Homo sapiens: one gene and its partner. The protein of the gene in region 1 interacts with the protein of each later gene in a pairwise test. Each region holds a gene or a part of one and is shown on either strand. Other genes may lie near its edges.

Evidence for each region. Proteins that work in one complex are often made in the same cells at the same time.
Region 2: the proteins of KCNK4 (region 1) and DIDO1 interact in a two-hybrid assay, tested with the Homo sapiens proteins (one large-scale study listed by BioGRID and IntAct).

The regions. Positions count from the first base shown.
Region 1 is NC_000011.10:64,289,669-64,293,410, reverse strand, and holds the start of KCNK4 (potassium channel subfamily K member 4), read right to left. Parts: upstream 2,110-3,742; 5' UTR 1,845-2,109; intron 1,690-1,844; exon of another isoform or gene 1,626-1,689; intron 1,414-1,625; exon of another isoform or gene 1,293-1,413; intron 470-1,292; 5' UTR 393-469; coding exon 204-392; intron 1-203. UniProt on the Homo sapiens protein: K(+) channel that conducts voltage-dependent outward rectifying currents upon membrane depolarization. Voltage sensing is coupled to K(+) electrochemical gradient in an 'ion flux gating' mode where outward but not inward ion flow opens the gate.
Region 2 is NC_000020.11:62,924,353-62,928,094, forward strand, and holds the start of DIDO1 (death-inducer obliterator 1), read right to left. Parts: upstream 2,154-3,742; 5' UTR 2,087-2,153; exon of another isoform or gene 2,080-2,086; intron 1-2,079. UniProt on the Homo sapiens protein: Putative transcription factor, weakly pro-apoptotic when overexpressed. Tumor suppressor. Required for early embryonic stem cell development.

The DNA.
Region 1 (3,742 bases):
CTCTCCAGGAAAACAAATGACCCCACAGTTGCCCTATTGAAAACACAGAGACCTGGTCCCCAGCCTCTGTCCCACAGCCTCCCACTGCACCCGTCCTCAGGGATACTGATCTGAAAGCAGCACTGGCACAGGGCCTCACTGGCACACAGCTAGCGCCAGGGGTGATGGGTGACAGCTGAAGGGGCTGCGGCCCACCCACGCACCTTGATGAGGAGGCCCAGCTCCTGGTCGCTCACACACGGATGGGCCCTCAGGAACTTCTCTCGGACCTCCCCCAGCTCCCTCTGGGCCTGCTGCTCGTGGGGCTGCTCCAGGGCCCGGAACACCAGGGCACCAGACACCAAGTAAAGCAAGACCAGCGCCAGCAGGGCCAGGAGCGTGGTGCTGCGCATGGCGCGCCCAGGCGCCGGGCCAGCTCCACTGCCCGCCTGGAGGGGCCGGGCGGGGGGCTCCTGGGGAGCTGTCGTCACTGCGGGCAAAACCAGGGATGCTGGGGTCACTGAGCTGGCCTGACACCCACACCCTCCTCCTCTATCCCCTACACACCCAAAGATCCATAAAGCCCCCAGCTGCACTGTCCACAGACATCCCTCTGGCTGGACACACCCAGTCCCCCTCCTATCTCCAGCCTTCCCCTTACCTCCGCTGCCCGGCCCTCAGCCCCTGTCTGGGACTACCGGGTGAGGAAAGAGAGGAGGGCACCGAGAAGGGAAAGGAAGGCGAGTGGGAGGCCGAAAGAGAGCCTAAGCCTGCCTAGGGGGAAGCGGGGCGAGCGAGGAAATGTGTGGAGCTTGGTGGGGGTGCGGGGAGCTGGCCCTCGAGGAGGAGGCTGAGGGGGCTCGGAGGCGTCCGAAGGGAAACCCGGAGGAGAGGCCGGACAGCGCAAGGCGGGGACAGGGGAATGGTGGGTCCCTGCTCGCCCGCTGCGGCTGTGACAGCATCTCCGCGGCTTCTCCGTCCCCTCTCGCCTCGCCCTGCTTCCTGGCTGGCCCTCCAGGGTGCCCCCGCGCCCCGCCGGGCTTTCGAGGAACCCAGGGGCGGGTCCCGGCCGCCGCACCCAGGCGAGGAGGGGTGCTGGGGACGCCCAGTTCCCGGAAAAAGCGGGGCGGGGGTCCGCAAAGGCCACACCGGGGCGACAGCCCCCGAGACAGCTGTCAGTCCGAGACAGCGGGCGGCGGCGCCCACGCGCACACACGCCCCGGCACGCGCCGCCAAGCGCGGGCACAAAGACCCGCGCGCCCACGCTCCATCCCGAGGCTGCAGCGCCGCGCCGCCCCGCTGCACGCACGCACCCCACCTGCACTCTCCGCAGACGCCCCGGCATCCCCGGCCCCCATGGGCGTGCCGGCCGCGCCAGGGCACCCAGAGCCCACGCACACGTGTGTGGACACTAGCGTGCACACGCCAGACAGCAGGGCCACCGCGCAGCGCCCGCAGCTCGCTCCCACCGCCTCCCCCGCGTCCGCACAGCGACGCCTCGGAGCGTGGCGGGCGGCGGGACCGGCGGCCACACCACTCCCGGAGGCGCCCACGCGCGAGAGGTGGGCACCCCGCCCGGCCAGTCGCCCCTGGGGCGTCCCTGCCCCTGAGTCCTGCCCGCGCACCGGAGCCCGCACCGCACTTACTGTCGGCCCCGCTGCGGCTGCGGCTGAGGCCCGGGTTCCAGCACGGCCTCGCCGGTGCCGACTGGGCCGCGGAGGCGGCAGGGGCGGAGCGGGCGGCCGCCGGGGCTGGGACCCCCCTCCCGCCGGCAGAAGCCCCCCTCCTCCCGCGGTTAACCCCTCCGGCGCCGCGCTTCCCTCCGTGCAGCGCCCTCGCCGCCGGCGCCGCCCCAAGCCGTTTACCTGCGGCCGCCTGGCTCCCCACAGCCGGCCAGCCCCGGGAGGTGGGTGGCAGAGGAGCCGGAGAGGGGTTGCAGCAGGGGCCAGCCTTCTAGCCTTGGACCGGAGCCCAGTGTGGCCAGCGGCAGGGCCCCGACCTGGGCATCAGCTGGCCCGTCTCTCCGGACAGGCACCACGCTAATCTGGCATCTCCCAGGCCCATTACCGGATCGGGAAGGGTCCGCAACTCTCCGCCCCTGGGGACAGCCTGGCCCTTGGGCTCAGCACTCATGAGGGAGGGGCTCCGCGGGACAAAGGGGTGGGGGAAACCCGGTGGGGCCACCTGGAATTGGCCGACGTGGAGGTTGGGACCCACCTCTGGGGGAGTTGCTGCTGGAGCACCTCCTGCCCCCACTCCAGGTTTTGGCCCTCTACCTGCTCCCCGGCTATCCCTCCAGGGTGCTCCCTGCCCCAGCTTTTGGTTCTCACTTCCATGCCCAGAAATCAGCCCCGGAAGGCTGTGGCTGAAGCTGCCTGCAGATCCCAGCATGGCACTGGTGCCAGCATCCACTCTCCCACTGCCTGAACACCCAGGCCCTGGCTGGTCCTGAACTTGCCCCGCCCTGTTCTCACCCACTTGACAACCTGTGACCTCTCCAAAGACCCTCTGGTGCCTGCTGGGGTCCTCAGCCCTCATGCTGGATGGCTTTCAGCCTGGGCTTTGAGGCTGACCACCCGCTACTGGTAGGGAACCTGAACAGGTTACCAAACTCTGGAGTCTCCCTGTTCCCACTTACAGAAAAGGGATGATTAATCATCACTTCGGGGTGCTGTTCTGGGCATTAAGGAGGCCAGTGTTTAGAAATCCTCAAAACAGAGCCTGGCACACACAATAAAGTGCCCCACAAACGTTAGCAGTTTTTATTTCAACAAAAAGTGATTGTCCAGCTTCAAGCTGATTCTCTATGAGTCTCAGATGCCCTCTCTGGAGGCCCTGAGGGCCTGGTGCCCAGGATGGTCCCAAGTAAAGGGTTTTGAAGCAGGCCCAGTGATAAGCCAAGGGAACTCTGAAAAGCTGGGACAACCACCTATGTGGGCAGGGGACAGACCCTCCAGCAAAGGACTCCTAGCCATCAGACAGACCTGCCAGGGCCATGGAAGCAGAGGGCAGTGACTATGCTACTAAGGACAGTGGAGAAGAGGGCTAACGGGAGGGCATAGCTAGGGGACCACCTGTACATCTGGGCAAACCCACGCCCTGGTAGGAAGATGGGGGCTGCTCAGTCACTGCGCCAACTCCCCAGCAAGCCCTGGACTAACTCCTGACTCCTAAAGACCAGGTTGGGGTGGTGATAGGGAAACAGGGCCTCCAGAAAGTCTAATCCATTGGGGTTAAGACTCAGAAGCTGCCAGGCATGGTACCTCATGCCTGTAATCCCAGCACTTTGGGAAGCTGAGGTGGGTGGATTGCTTGAGCCCGGGGGTTCGACACCAGCCTGGGCAACATGGTGAAACCCCACCTCTAAAATTAAAAATTAAAAAATTAGTCAGGAATGGTGGCATGTGCCTGTATTCCCAGCTACTCGGGAGGCTGAGGCAGGAGGATTGCTTGAGCCTGGTAGGTTGAGGCTGCAGTGGGCCATGATCGTGCCACTGCACTCCAGTCTGAGTGACAGAGTGAGACCCTGCTTCAAAAAACAAAACAAAACAAAGAACCTCAATGGCCACATAATCAGTAATGTGGAGCTGTGGGGCCCAGCAGAGGGGCCATGTCCCTTGACCAGGAGACAGAAGGCTTCCTAAAGGAGGTAACAGTTGACGCAGGTCTTGAGGAAAGAGTAGCAACTGTTCAAGTGGAGAGGGATCTGGAGGTAGTGGGGCAATTCTGGGCCAGGAGAGCTTTGAGAACAAAGGCCTGTGTG
Region 2 (3,742 bases), on another chromosome or scaffold:
TCAATCTTAGCTCTTCAAGAGCCAAATAAGCCACTTGGTATTATGGGACAGGCATATAAAAAGGAAAAACGTGTCTTGTTTACAGAGATTCCAAACAATGAAGACGTGGCACAGCTTAAAAATAAACACTGAAGAGAAGCACCCTACTGGGCTCCACAGAACTGACCTTAAGGGAATTATGACCCTAAGGCTGTAGAAAAACTCACAGTATCAACAGCAGAACCTGCCAACTTCACCGCGAACAAAACGGGAGCCAATGCCCATTCCAATCATTTCCTCCTTACATGAAGAAACCCCAGCACCCTCCAAGGCCCAACCGATGATCCGCACGTCCTAGACAAGCCTTTGCGAGGCTCACATATGCACATGCAACATGGGCTGGGCTGTCTGGTAACCATGGGTACGGCTGGGCAGTCAATCACAAATTATCTTATTTGTGCCCTGTCTTCTCACCACAGCACAATGAGCTCTGCTTGACATAGTCTGAATTCAATCAACTACTAATAAGGGACAGCCTCTGGTGGAAAGCCTGAAAAAATTCAAGATACGCGCTTTTCCAAAACAAGAGGTATCTTATGAAACTTGCTGAAACAAGTCTACAAGAACAGACATCTCCTCCCCATGTACACAGCAAGTAGGAAAACAAGTGTGCATTAAGCAGGGAGTTTCACAACAGGGCTGTGTCTGTCTTCCTGGGTGACACTTCTGAGATGTCTATGCCGTATTTAAAATAGTGAAATAGTCACAGACACACATACACTAACAGCAACCCAAAGGGCCACTAAAGAGCCCTAGGCTCCAGGTAAACGAGTTGGCAACACCTGATTTAAAGGAAGGAGCTGGAATAATCTCTCAAGTTCCCCAGTGAACTTGTCTCCAGGACTGGGACAGGGGCCACCTTGGTCACTGCTGTATCCCTCGTGCTAACAGTAAGCAATGAATGCTCATTTAAAAAAAGACTGTATTTACTCCTTAAAAGGCACTGCTAAGGACCTTTCTCAGAACTGTATTTCAACCAAGTCATATGTGGCCCTACGGAAACCATGGAACACGGGGTATATAGCAAAGTTATGTGAATATACCGAAAAGACGTTCCCATCTGCCTTTCCCTCCTCTAAGTCCCTGAGTACACTAGGCTCAAATCTCATTCCATCAGCAGACAGATGACACGGATATCGAAGGCCCAGGCACAAGTTAAAGAGTATTTTCAATAACTGGTAACGCAGTAAGCTACTGCTACCTGTGGCCCAAACTCTAAACTTATATATTAAAGTCCTTTATTTAGAGCAGAAAAGCCGGCCTTGACCTCCACTGTCTCAGAACCGCGAGAAGGAGCCCCGGACGCCGCAGCGGAGGCAGCACGAGCACCCCTCCCGCCGAGCGCAAGAGCGGGCCCTTTCGGCTTCCGGGGTCACTGGAAGGCAAAATGTGTCACAAATACGGCCAGTACAAACCAACGCAACAAACTATTCCACAAAAAAACTGAAAACCAGCGCGGGGAGGTAAGGACACACTCTTCAGAAAAGCGAATCCGGGCTCTTCGCGCTTCCTGCAGCGCCAGCCGCCCCTGCAGTGCCGGAATCCCCCGAAGGCACGCCAGAAGCTAAGCCGGCCACCCCGACCGCACCCAAGGCCCGGGAGGAAGCGCCGAGGTCCCCGAGAATGCCTAGGGAAACCAGCTGCGCTTACAAGCCAGCTACGCAGCCCCCGAGCCCCGGGCCGCACTCGCCCAGGCCAGCCCTGCGCTCTTCCCCGCGAGCGGCCGCCCCGACTCCCACCCTCGGAACCGTTCCAGCCGCGACCACCGAGTGCTCGCCAGTCCCCTCGACCTCACGCAGCCCACCAGGGCCGGCGTCTGAGGCCCGCGCCCCAGGCCGCGGCGGCTCTGACCGGCCCCGCCCGCTCGCCCGCCCGCCCGCCCGCTCCTTCCCTTCCGCGGCCGCCATCTTCTCGGCGGGAGCGGCCTGTGCGGGATCCGCGGCTCTCGCCAGCCGGGCTCCGATGCCGGCCCCGCCCCGCTCCCGAGGGCGGCCCAAGCGGCGGCCGGCTCTTCTACCCGGCGCCCGGGACGCCACTTACCGCAGGCCGCAGGCCTCTAGGGTCTCGCAGCCATTTCCCCGAACGCCGCGGAGTGGGCGGACGGCCACCGAGATGGCGCGGGGCTAGAGCGGCGCCCCCGCGCGGCGGGCGGAGGACGAGACCGGCCACCGAGACGCTGCGGGGCTAGAGCGGAGCCCGGGCTGCGAAGCCCGGCCCCGGACTGCGCGCATGCGCCCGTCTTTCATACCTGCACTCCGGACGCGCCCTTCGGGTCTGCACTGACAATGACTTGCTTGCATCCTTTGTGGACACCTTATTTCCCCGACTCCAAGAGTGAAAGCTGGGGCAGTGCCCTTGCGGGGATCCCTCGGAACAGCCCGGGCAGGGCGCAGGCGGAACGTGGATGCTAGCCCCGAGGGACTGCACTCCGCCAGGATTTCGCTCTTAAGACCGATAAACCCTTCAAGTCGGTGGGGATAGAAAGCTCCTGGGCTAAATTTGTAAGAGGTGTAGGGGGGCGGGGACAGGGGATAAAAGAAGAAAAGGCCCAGGTTTTCTCTTCCAGATTGTGTTTCTCAAAACGCAGGCCCCTGACGGCCTCGGCTGGGAATGGCAGCGAGGGGCGAGGTCCAGGTGTGGGCGGGGTTTCTCTCCAACTTGAAGACCCTACCTGCTGCCTCCCCACCCCAAGCTCGGCTCCAGAAACCAGGAGCGTGGGGGTGGGGGGGAGAGAAAGGAGCACAGCGAGGAAGGGAGGCGGGCACGCTGGACCTCTAGGCCCCAGGGACCTTGGCGGTGTGGTCCCAAAGCTCTGCCTCCTCCCACCATGTCAATCCTACACTCAGAACTACTGACCAGTAGCTAGAACTCAAAGAACGCATGGACATGTTTGCCCACAGGGGTTGGAGGGAAAGATTAGACACTTACTATCAAGAGAGGGGAAAGTGAGGTATGGTAGATGTCAACCTTCCATGTGGATTTTCTTCAGTTCGCTCAATAGTAACTAGAGTGACACTCTATCACCTGTCTGTCCCCAGATACTGCAGGAAAGAGACTGGGAGGGGGCAGGAGGGGCAGCTGTTGCCTCGAGGCACCATGGGCACTGGCCACTTGCTCCGAGGGCAGGGACCTGGGGGGGGTGGAGGTGGCCCCATTACTTGTTTCTGCTTCTGTGAACAGTGATACGCTACCTGGAAGCATGGACCATCTAGCCTTTGGCGTTGGCCCTGGCCAAGAGTAAAAGGGGCCCAGAGTGCCGTAAAGCTGCCCCTAATACAGAGGCTTCTGCGATGCTTCCATGGATGAACCAGGGGCTTTGAGGCAGGTGTGCTTTTTAATAATACCGCTGAAGATTACAGGGTCTGCTAGTTTCTGAGGCAGACTTAGTTTTCTTCAAAGGAATACAACGCAGCTTGTTTTTGCTGGTGTGGCCCATTAGGACCACATTAATAGAATCTGGCAGGGATGGGCTTGACAGTCTTCCATCTTGAGTGTGATCTCAGGTTGCAAAGAGGGCTTTTTGCTCTCAGACATGGGGTAGTGGGAAGCTTAGAAGACAGACGGGGTTGAGACCACCTTTAACAAGCAGTGAGATCTTGGGCAAGCTCTCTGTTAAAGGAGGGCTCACATGCTGAGGCCCAGGTGAAGACCACATGAGGCCTCCCTACAAGAGGCTCTCTCTAAATCCAACTGGTATGGGGGA